3 linked regions of the Homo sapiens genome follow. The protein of the gene in region 1 purifies or fractionates together with the protein of each later gene. This does not show direct contact. Each region holds a gene or a part of one and is shown in the gene's direction. Other genes may lie near its edges.

Region 1 (4,068 bases):
CCATGGCAGGGAGGGGGTGCGGGCAGGAGAGTGCGGTCGACCAAAGACAGAATTTCAAACACTGGGACAGAAGAGGGAAGGGCATTCCTGGCAGTGGGAACAGCAGGAGCAAAGACCAGGATGAGGTGGGATTTGGGTGCTCAGGCTGAAGAGCTCCAGTGTGAGTCTGGGCTTAGCTGAGATCATGGCCTTGACCGCCAGGGCCCAGGAAGACACAGGCTGCTTGTCACACATCCCTCCCCCAACCCCCACACCCTACACACTGGCAGCTGCAGGACTGGGAGCAGGGGGTGGCAGGATCACAGACCAGACACAACCTGGGGAGGCTGGAGCAGGCAGTCTGGGGGGATGTCCTTGGGGGGAGCTGGGAGCTGAGCAGGAGATGGTCTGAGGCATCCCAACCCAAAATCACTGTCCCCTGTCTGAGCCCCGGGTAAGGAACTTTCCCTCAATTTCCTTACCTGCAAGGAGGTGGTAAGCCCTGCCTGAGGGCAGCTTTATCAGAAGGTTAGAGATGAAGGTACCCAGCTGGCAGGTGGCTGGGGGCATGGGATTAGCACCCCCAAGAGACCCCAGCTCCTCCCCACCCCACTCTCTATCCAGGACCTTCTCTGCTGACCCAGTAGTTTTTGGCATTTGTCTCCTTAAGCCTCTGAGCACACCCTGTAGCTGGCTGTCCGGGTGGCAGTTCACTCCCAGGCCCCCAACACCCAGCCTGACCACTCAAAGGAGCTCGGAGGTGGGACCAAGGTCCTCCTGGAAAGATTCCAGCCCAGAATCTTGGAAGATCCAGCACACAGATCTGCCTTGGAACACAGATGACCTGAGGCAGGAGGGATCCCTGAGGAGCCAGCAGCAGAGAGTGGCCCGTAACACTCCCCTGCCCCCTTCCAGGCAGTCTGGGGGGTCCCTGGGCTGCCTGGGGTGAGCCAGTGGGGGCTCTCCTGGATGAGGGGGGTGGGGAGAAGAGCCGAGCACAGGGTGTGTAGGAGTCAAGGAGGGTCCCCACAAAGGGAAGAAGGGGCGGCCCCAGGCCATGGTGGCGGAGGCGGGGAGCTGGAGGGGTCAGGAAAGGGCAGGGAGGGGACCGGCCTGATACTGGAGGAATGAGGAAGGGACAGGGAGGGTCCCAGTTGGGTGGGGTGGGCCTAGAGGGCCAGGCTGGGAGTGGGAGGAGCAGCCTGGAAGGCTGGGGAGCCCCTGGAGGGGCGGGGTCTTCACACCTCCACCCTGGGGAAACTCTACCCCACTAATCCGCTCAGCAGACCAGTCTGTCGCCACCTCACTTGGTGTCTGCTGTCCCCGCCAGGCAAGCCTGGGGTGAGAGCACAGAGGAGTGGGCCGGGACCATGCGGGGGACGCGGCTGGCGCTCCTGGCGCTGGTGCTGGCTGCCTGCGGAGAGCTGGGTGAGGTGTGGGACCCACAGGGGAGCTGGGACGGAGGGAGATGCCACCCACTGACATTCACACTGTTCCCGGGAGGGCGCCCCAGGAAGGGGCCTCAGAGGCAGGAGAAGCCAGAGCTGTGGGGCCGGGGGTGTGGCCCCCCCGCCATAAGGAGGGGAGGGTGGAAACGGAGAGAGGGGCTGGCGGTGAGGGGGACGCCTAATGAGGGTGAGCAGAGGGTGGCCTTCGAGGTGGGCGGGGGCCCAGCCAGCCACACCCCTGAGCACCAGCCTGGGTGTCACACTTTATGGGGGGCTATGGGCACCCAGAAGGGCCTTGAGCGGGGGAAGGAAGGCAACCCCAGGGAGGCTCTGAGGCTGGGGTGGCAGTAGAGATGGAGAGGAGTGGGGAAACCAGACACATGGGGTGGGGTGACTCCCTGATGTGGAGCCTGAAACAACCATCAGGGGCAATGTCCTGGACTCAACCAGAAGCAGCTTGGCCCAGAGGCCCCTGGCAGATGGCTTTGCCCATTTCCCAGAAACAGGTGCACCAGAGAGGGGCAGAGGCCCCGCTGCATCCCCACAGTGGGGACAGAGGAGTCGGGCCTAGCTGTGCAGCTGGCTGCCCTGGCCAGCTGGAACCAGCCAGACCCACCTGGGCTGCTGCGGTTGGGGCCGGGGTCACCGGAGCAGGAGGGAATTGGAGCCTCTCCGGTCCCCGTCCCTGCCGGTCTGCAAGTCCCTGTGGGAGAGGAGTGGGCACCCAGACACAGCCCGGATGCAGCCTGGCACACCCTGCATTCCATGGGCCTCCTGGCCTGATCCCTTGACCTCCACAGCAGCACTTCCCTGATGGGGAAACTGAGGGGGTAACCTGCCCCCAGCCACGCCCCCACCCAAGGCTTCCTGCCCGAGGTGCCTCTTGCTATGAAGATGCCAGGGCCTTGGTCCCCCTGAGTCTCCCAAACACTTCCAAAGGGGCTTGGCTTGGCTCCTCCCAGGCCTTGCAGGCTGGATCCCCACCCCCAGCAGCCGACTCTGCCTCTGGGATGCAAGGTTCCGAGGCTGAGCCCGGCCTGTCCCCAGCTGCAGGCTCCTGGCATTGCTCCTGAGTTTTGGCTGGTAGGCATCTCTACCCTGGCCAGTGTCACTGTCCTCTTCAGACCTGGGCTTCCAGGACAGACTGTCTCTGGGCTTGGGAGGGGTGGAGCCTGCCTGACCGCCCTTGTCCCTTCTCCCCAGCGCCGGCCCTGCGCTGCTACGTCTGTCCGGAGCCCACAGGAGTGTCGGACTGTGTCACCATCGCCACCTGCACCACCAACGAAACCATGTGCAAGACCACACTCTACTCCCGGGAGATAGGTCAGTGGGCACAGAAGGCGGGCAGGGCCGGGTTCCCGGTCAGAGCCACCTCCAGCCCAGTCACACTCTACTCCCAGGAGATAGGGCAGTGAGCACGGAAGGCGGGCAGGGCTGGGTTCCCGGTCAGAGCCACCTCCAGCCCAGTCACCACCAGCCAGCTTGGCCCCAGTGCACAGCCACCACCTCACCCATCTCCAGAAATGGCTTTCTGCCCGAGCTAGGCCTCCCTCTGCCCTCCCCTTCCTTCCTCTCTCCCTCATGTCCTTCGGTGGGAACATATCTGCAACCTCGTTTTGGGGGGACTGGAGAAGCTGGGCACACTTACAGGCTTTGGTTTCAACAGTCACCTCGGGGCGGGAACTGCCCCATCAGGCCGGGTGCCTGGCACATGGTAGACACCCGGACAACGTCGGTGGGAGGAGAGAGGAAGAGGAGGGCACTGGGCCAGGAGGGACGGAGACCCGGGTGGGTGACCCCAGAGTGGGGCCTGCATGAGGTGGTACTGGCAGGGACCAGGGCTTGGAGGCAGTGACCAGCCCTGACGGCTGACTCTTCCCACACCCCACAGTGTACCCCTTCCAGGGGGACTCCACGGTGACCAAGTCCTGTGCCAGCAAGTGTAAGCCCTCGGATGTGGATGGCATCGGCCAGACCCTGCCCGTGTCCTGCTGCAATACTGAGCTGTGCAATGTAGACGGGGCGCCCGCTCTGAACAGCCTCCACTGCGGGGCCCTCACGCTCCTCCCACTCTTGAGCCTCCGACTGTAGAGTCCCCGCCCACCCCCATGGCCCTATGCGGCCCAGCCCCGAATGCCTTGAAGAAGTGCCCCCTGCACCAGGACTCCTGAGTCTCCTTTCTGGGCACAGACCTGCCCTGCTGCATCTCTGACCTCGTCGATGTCCCCGTTCCTGTGTGTCTGTCTCTCTTCCTGCCTTCCTGTGATGTTAAGCTCTATCCCATCGTGAGAACAGCCACTGGGCCTGGGACCCCCACACAAACCATGCAGATCTCTGCCCTCAGGGGATGTGGGGGCCTGACCAGGGTGGGGCAGCAGCTGAGACCCTTCGGCAAGGGAGCACCACATCTACCAGGGTGAAGTCAGGGCCATCTCCTTGGAGGAGGGGGCATTAGGGCCAAGCCTTGAAGGATGGAGAGATCTGGCAGGCCTTGAGGAGGGCAAGGCATGTCAGGTGGAAGGAAGGTCAAGGCAGTGACCAGGAGCTGGGGTTGTCCTCTGGAGCACCCCACTACCCACCTCCCCAGCCTGAGCAGGGCCTTGCCCCAAGGCTGATGGCGGAGGCTGCTTTGAGGAGGAGA
Region 2 (3,500 bases), on another chromosome or scaffold:
GCACCTTAGAAATTTCTCTATCTATCATTTTAAGAAAATCCACCGGCCTGCTGCGTCGCCATGCTTCTGCAGCTGGTCCAGGGACAGAGCTTCGAGTGGGCTGGCCCAGCCTCATTTCCCCCATCAACCCCATTAATTTTTTTGTATGGGTTTGCAGAAACGCGGTTTTTATGGAGGCATGGCACAGCACTGTAGGAGAAATGGCAACCTGTGTTGCTTTGAACTCTCTTACCTTGTTATTCGTAGGTGACTGTTAGTTACACTTGCAAAAGCCAAATGAAACACTGTCATGATTTTATAGTTCCATCTCTTGTTAAAATTGGAAAACCACTAAACTCTACCTATTGAAAGTAAGTAAAGGTAATTTTTTGAGTTGAAAAAGAAAGAAAGAAAAAGAGAAAAAAAGAACCTGGAGCAAAAAGAATTAAGTGCCTTTACTAGGATGAAAAGTCATGAATTACGGGCTTGTGATGACAGGATTTCAGTTTTCATTTGAATCAGTTAAATTATCATGCAAATTGATGCAAAACTGAGATCCATTTATTCATTGAATTAAAAAGGCTGGAAGGAATAAATAGACGAGGTTAGAAGAAAATATGTTGCTTGATTGAATGAATTCACTACTTTGCACTGTGTCTTGCAGTATGGTATTTGGAAGTCAACTGGATATCCATTCAGGTGGGATAGATTTAGCTTTTCCACATCATGAAAACGAAATTGCACAGTGCGAAGTCTTTCATCAGTGCGAGCAGTGGGGAAATTATTTTCTGCATTCTGGTAAGTAATAACTTCAGATTAATTTGTTCTGTTTCAATTCTAGCAGTTCTGTCTTTGTCGGCGGAACAGCTACATTTGGAAATACATAGTAGATCAGCTAATAGGTCAAGAAATGGATTTGCCTCTTAAATTATTTTTGAGTTTCAATCATTTGAACATGAGCTTCCTTGGATTGCAGCAATGATTATACCTTTTTGGAACTGACTAGAATATGGAAAATGTTTGGCAATGCTGTTCTATATAAGGTTTCTTTCAAGTAAAACTATTAAGAAGGAACTTGAAGTAGTACAATGTAACGATAATTATGAACATCCTTTCTGAAGCTATAATGTTGTCACTAGACATCTCTGCCATCTTCTAATAACATTGCCCTTTCTTCCACTGTTCAAACACCTAACTGATGAACCCCAGCTGTCTGCTCTCAGAAGTGGATGCAACACCATGAGTTAAGCAACACCTCGAACCCAGCAGTTTTGGAATTCACTTGGATGCACTGGAAGAGTCGTATTTCCAAGTTTACAGGGTCACGATTAACTAGTCTTATTACCTTTTGGGGATGGACAGCTAAGGTATTTGAGATGAAGAAAGATAAAGAGTGTTTGGTAGTGATAGGATTTGGAGATGCAAACTTCGACATCTAAAATACAGAAAATTAACAAATACTATCTTTTGAAGTCCTTGAATTGGGAAATTAGGATGTCACAGTAAAGTGACATTAAGTGCAGAAGTGCTCTGGTTTTCTGGTCCGCAGCAGAGTTCACTTGGGTTTCTTCGTGAAAGTACATGAGGCTGATTGCCCCGAAGTCACTTCCTGCAGCATGTCCTTCACCCCGGGCTTACCCTGTTGAGTCGGGGAACCCAGCAGGCGGCTCTGCCCCTACCATTACCTACTATGTCTGCCTCTCACAGTGCCCCAGTTTTTGTCTAAAAATGAAGCAGAAACAAAGCTGGCTGCGTGGCTGTTTGAGGACTTAGGAGCTGTTGTCCAGCACCCCATACCATTTCCCTGGGGAGGGCTCAGCACTAGCTGAAATCCACTTTATTCCGGTGTCGGTGGAGTTTCTAATCAGAACAAACGCCTGCCGCCCTCACTTCCGTTTCAGCTGGCGCTCACATGGGAAGGGGGTGCACGCTGCCCAGTGGTGGAATATTTAAGGCATCGCCCCTCAGGGAGCCGAGCACTGATTTCCACAGCCGGGGGCCTGCACTCCACTTTTGACCATGGGGAAGGAGGTCTCTCTTCCGTGGCCCAAGGACTTCTGAATTGTGTTCTTGGAGAGGAAGCGTGCTGGGAGCCCAGATAGTGGGGCTGAGACACTGTGTCTCAGGCACAGAGGTAGTCGTGTCCCTTGTCCCAGATGAAGAAAGATAAAGAGTGTTTGGTAGTGATAGATTTGGAGATGCAAACTTTGACATCTGAAATACAGGAAATTAACAAATACTAGTTTTTGAAACCCTTGAATTGGGAAATTAAGATGTCACAGTAAGGTGACATTAAATGCAGAAGTGCTCCGGTTTTCTGGTCCGCAGCAGGGTTCACTTGGGTTTCTTCATGAAAGTAAATAGATGAGGCTGATTGCCCCGAAGTCACTTCCTCGTTGACTTCGTTCAGGGCTCAGTTCAGCGCTCCCTGAACTGTCTGAGGAGCTGGAGTTGCTCCCTCCGCAGGCACGTTTCTGTCTGCAGGTTTATCCTGTTCAGTAGGTCAGGGTTTGTTACTGACAACCATGACCTGCTGTGAGCCCTTCTGCGAGTGTGGAGCTGGGGGGCAAGAAGGGCAGCCTTAGCTGTGCCAACGCTTCGTCCTGTCAGGTAATGAGGAGGGGCCGGGTCTAGAAACGGAGGTCGTGTTCACCTTCCGATGTGGGAATGGGAAAGCATTTGCTGTTGTTGTTGAAACAATTTCGCTCCGTCCCCCAGCCTGGGAGTGCAGTGGCACTATCTGAGCTCACCGCAACCTCTGCCTCCTGGGTTCAAGCAATTCTCCTGCCTCAGCTGTTCTAGTAGCTGCGACTACAGGTGCATACCACCATACCCAGCTAATTTTTGTATTTTTAGTAGAAGCAGGGTTTCACCATGTTGGCCAGGCTGGGCTCAAACCCCTGACCTCAAGTGATCTGCCACCTCTGCCTCCCAAAGTGCTGGGATTATAGGCGTGAGCCACTGCACGTGGTGGGAAAGTTTTGTGGCTATTTTTCAGTGATTTTTTACTACCTGTTAAGATACCAGCGATCTTTTTCATACTAGTTTGGCCCCAAACAAAACATCAGTGTCTCCTGACGCAGGAGAAGTGACACCTGTTCTCCTGTACCCAGTGGATGGAAGAGCTAAGTGGGCAGACACTATCCCAGCCTGTTAGGGCTGCTATAGCCAAACTGAAAGCGGGCGTGTTATGAACAACAGCAATGAATTCCTCACAGTTCTGCTGGCTGGGAGTCCTGCGTCAGCGCACTGGCAGACTCGGTGTCTCGGGAGGGCCTGCTTCCCATTTGTAGACGGCCGTCAGCTCTCGAGGGGCCTCTGTTATGAGAGCACTGATTCCATTCACACTGGCTCTGCCCCTGTGACCTCATCACCTCCCACAGGCCCTGCCTTCAGTTACCGTCACCTGAGGGCTGAGGATTTTGACAGGAATTTGGGAGGACATAAACATTCAGGCCTTAGCAAATGTGTTTTATTTTCCAACTATCATCAATTTTAAAAAATCAGAATCGTGCTTGGTG
Region 3 (3,500 bases), on another chromosome or scaffold:
TTGTGAGGATTCAAATATAAGAAAGGGATTATTCTTGGTAGAGTTAACAAAATTGTACCAAATGACTTTTTGTGTTAAACACGATTCATTCACCCAACCCTAGAAAGGAGCCTGAATGAAGTCTAATTTGGGTGACAGATTCCCACACAAATTAGATGTATGTCATTCAGGTATAGAGAATTGATTTTATATTAGAAAAAACAAACCTTGTAAACAGTTTTATAAATAACTGTTTCATGATTTTCCTTAAGTAGTACTGATCTCTTACATATAGATCGTTTGTGTCTTTCGCCTCAAGTTAGTATAGAACAGGGCAAGTGGCAAAGCTCGAGGAAAGTGTGACCTGAGGTACATGCTGTCAGCTTGATGCTGGAGTTTGGCCTCTCAAATCTCTAACCTGTTAAATGAAGTTAATTAGGATTAATTTTTTTTAATGTATGTTTACTACTGAAAATAAGTGCTCGGCCAGACGCAGAGGCTCACGCCTGTAATCCCAGCACTTTGGGAGGCCGAGGCTGGCAGATCACCTGAAGTCAGGAGTTTGAGACCAGCCTGGCCAACATGGCGAAACACTGTCTCTATTAAAAATACAAAAATTAGCTGGGTGTGGTGATACATGCCTGTAATCCCAGCTACTCGGAGCCTGAGGCAGGAGAACTGCTTGAACCCAGGAGGCGGAGGTTGCATTGAGCCAAGATTGTGCCATTGCACTCCAGCCCAGGCGACAGAGTGAGACTCATGTCTCAAAAAAAAAAAAAAAAAAAAGAGGAAAAGAAGTGCCCAATAGCTTCAATGGATGCCACATAATTTTGGAATAATTTTTACAATCAGGAATTTCATTGTCCAAGCCCCTTAGAAAAAGAAGCAACCCAGCCCCATACCCAGAAAGTCAAGCTGTATAGTGCTGTTCCTTAGTGAGACGGTCAACTCTCAGTAGAAAAATCTCCTGTTTGGATTAGTGCTTAGTTGACCTATTGTGTTCAGTTCCTCTAACATGAGTAACTTCTATTGGATAGGAAATTTTGAAGCTCAAAGGGTGTAATGAGAGTTAACATTACTGATTTTCCACTGTTACTTTTTAGTGTTTTCATAACTTGGATGTGTTAACCTATGGCCCATCAACTATGCTCCTAGTCTCAGGTGACAACATGTTCAATTTAAGATGGCAGGCAGTACAGTGGACCTCTCTCATCCCATGGGAAGGAACCCAGGATGTTTATTATGTAGTATTGTATAGTCTCTGCAGCAGTAATAGAGAAAGTTAAAGGTAAGCGGTGGAGAAGTAAAATCTAGAGTTTCTAATATAACCCTTCTCACTTTTCTTTTCAAAAAAAATAAGAGGGTCTCACCATGTTGCCCACACTGGTCTCTATCGAACTCCTGGGCTCAAGCGATCCTGTCGTCTCAGCCTCCCAAAGTGCTAGGATTACAGGCATGAGCCACTCTGCATGGCCAAGCTCACTCTTCTTAAAGGTCTGCTAGTAAGAGGGTTTCTACTTTTTGAAACAAATTCATGATTACCTAAAATGAAGCTAGGTTATGAAGTATATATAAATATGCAGCCCAATAGGCTGGGTGTGGTGGCTCACACCTGTAATCCCAGCACTTTGGGAGGCTGAGGCAGGCAGATCACTTGAGGTCAGGAGTTTGAGACCAGTCTGGCCAACATGGTGAGACCACATCTCTACAAAAAATACAAAAATTAGCGGGTGTGGTGGCCTGTGTGCGCCCATAGTACCAGCCACTTGGGAGGCAGAGGCAGGAGAATCACTTGAAGCCAGGAGGCAGAGTTTTCAGTGAGCTGAAATTGTGTCACTGTACTTCAAGCCTGGGCAATGGAGTGAGACTGTCTCAAAATATATATATATTTGCAGCCCAATAAAGATACTTAGATAAAACTATTGGGTTTATTCCTTGAAAACTAGGGCATGTGTAGCTAGATCTGGCTCATAAAAAGCAAAGTTATTTACATATATTTTAAGGTAAAATTGCCTCTGATAAATGTCAAAGAGGAAGTTTAGGTCTTTCTTCTGGCAGAAAGCCAGAGAGTAAGTGCTGAATGTGACGCAGAATCATGTTAGGTAACAAGGACTTTGAGGTAAGTGGCTGAAGTCTTCTGTGGAGTCAGCCGACTCTTGCAGGATTGTGTGGTATCAGTCACCTTTAGCATTTGCCAACCCAACTCTGATCATTCTTCTTCTTTCAAGGTATCTCAGCGTTTGAGTCAGCCAGGAGTAGCAATAGGTTTGGCTTGGACTCCCTTAGGTGGAGAAATCATGTTCGTGGAGGCGAGTCGAATGGATGGCGAGGGCCAGTTAACTCTGACCGGCCAGCTCGGGGACGTGATGAAGGAGTCCGCCCACCTCGCTATCAGCTGGCTCCGCAGCAACGCAAAGAAGTACCAGCTGACCAATGGTAGGAGCCTGCACCCGGCCAGGCAGGCGTGACCCAGGAGGCGGTACCTTCCATGGCGGAGACTGGCATGAGCTCGAGACTGCCAGTTACACATCTAGCAAAGTACACACCGTTTTGAACCCCTGTGGAAATCCTAGTTCCCATTTCAGGACTATTTGACTAGTGCCTGAACTAGAAACTAATTCAAAAGGTTTATTTTGTTTTAATACGACTTAGAGTAGAATGGAACTGTTCTTCCACACCCTCACCCAAATTGTACTGTCCACCAATATTTTGAAGAATTCATTTACCCAAAACATTCATTTTTGTTTGTGACTTTTTTTTTAGGAGAAAAAGAAAACAGGTTTAATTTTTCTACATTAAAGTCCCTTTTTCCTTTTTAAAGCTTTTGGAAGTTTTGATCTTCTTGACAACACAGACATCCATCTGCACTTCCCAGCTGGAGCTGTCACAAAAGATGGACCATCTGCTGGAGTTACCATAGTAACCTGTCTCGCCTCACTTTTTAGTGGGCGGCTGGTACGTTCAGATGTAGCCATGACTGGAGAAATTACACTGAGAGGTCTTGTTCTTCCAGTAAGTATGAAAAAACAATTTATATGGTTATTTTTTATTTAATTTTTGAAAATTAATATTATTTTTAAATACGGGTTTGCCTTCTTTCTATGAAAACCTTGGTTTTAAGTATATATTATATTTTTATGCCTGTAACTAATTCATATTTTAAAATTTTGATCAAATAAAAGAAAAACTGACAATTTTTCACATTTTCCTTTTTTTTTTTTTTTTTTTTTTGAAATAGACAGGTCTCACTCTGTTGCCCAGGCTGGAGTGCAGTGGTGTGACTGTAGCTCACTATAGCCACCAAGTCCTGGGCTCAAGCGATCCTCCTGTCTATCTCCCGAATAGCTGGGACTATAGGAGCACGCCACCATGCTCAGCTAATTTATTTTATTTTGCGTAGAGACAGGGTCTCTCTGTGTTGTCCAGGCTTGTCTCAAACTCCAGGTCTCATGCAGTCCTCTCATCTCCACCTCCCAAAGTGCTGGGATTACAGGCGTGAGCCACCACATTCAGCCCACGTT

Evidence for each region.
Region 2: the proteins of LYPD2 (region 1) and CARS2 purify together in Homo sapiens (affinity purification with mass spectrometry; one large-scale study listed by BioGRID and IntAct). This does not show direct contact.
Region 3: the proteins of LYPD2 (region 1) and LONP2 purify together in Homo sapiens (affinity purification with mass spectrometry; one large-scale study listed by BioGRID and IntAct). This does not show direct contact.

What each region holds. Positions count from the first base shown.
Region 1 is NC_000008.11:142,749,733-142,753,800, reverse strand, and holds LYPD2 (ly6/PLAUR domain-containing protein 2 precursor), read left to right. Parts: upstream 1-1,268; 5' UTR 1,269-1,349; coding exon 1,350-1,407; intron 1,408-2,630; coding exon 2,631-2,750; intron 2,751-3,318; coding exon 3,319-3,518; 3' UTR 3,519-3,651; downstream 3,652-4,068.
Region 2 is NC_000013.11:110,664,617-110,668,116, reverse strand, and holds part of CARS2 (probable cysteine--tRNA ligase, mitochondrial), read left to right. Parts: intron 1-643; coding exon 644-777; intron 778-1,188; coding exon of another isoform or gene 1,189-1,346; exon of another isoform or gene 1,347-2,589; intron 2,590-3,500. UniProt on the Homo sapiens protein: Mitochondrial cysteine-specific aminoacyl-tRNA synthetase that catalyzes the ATP-dependent ligation of cysteine to tRNA(Cys). In addition to its role as an aminoacyl-tRNA synthetase, has also cysteine persulfide synthase activity.
Region 3 is NC_000016.10:48,345,300-48,348,799, forward strand, and holds part of LONP2 (lon protease homolog 2, peroxisomal), read left to right. Parts: exon of another isoform or gene 1-1,612; intron 1,613-2,207; coding exon 2,208-2,415; intron 2,416-2,800; coding exon 2,801-2,991; intron 2,992-3,500. UniProt on the Homo sapiens protein: ATP-dependent serine protease that mediates the selective degradation of misfolded and unassembled polypeptides in the peroxisomal matrix.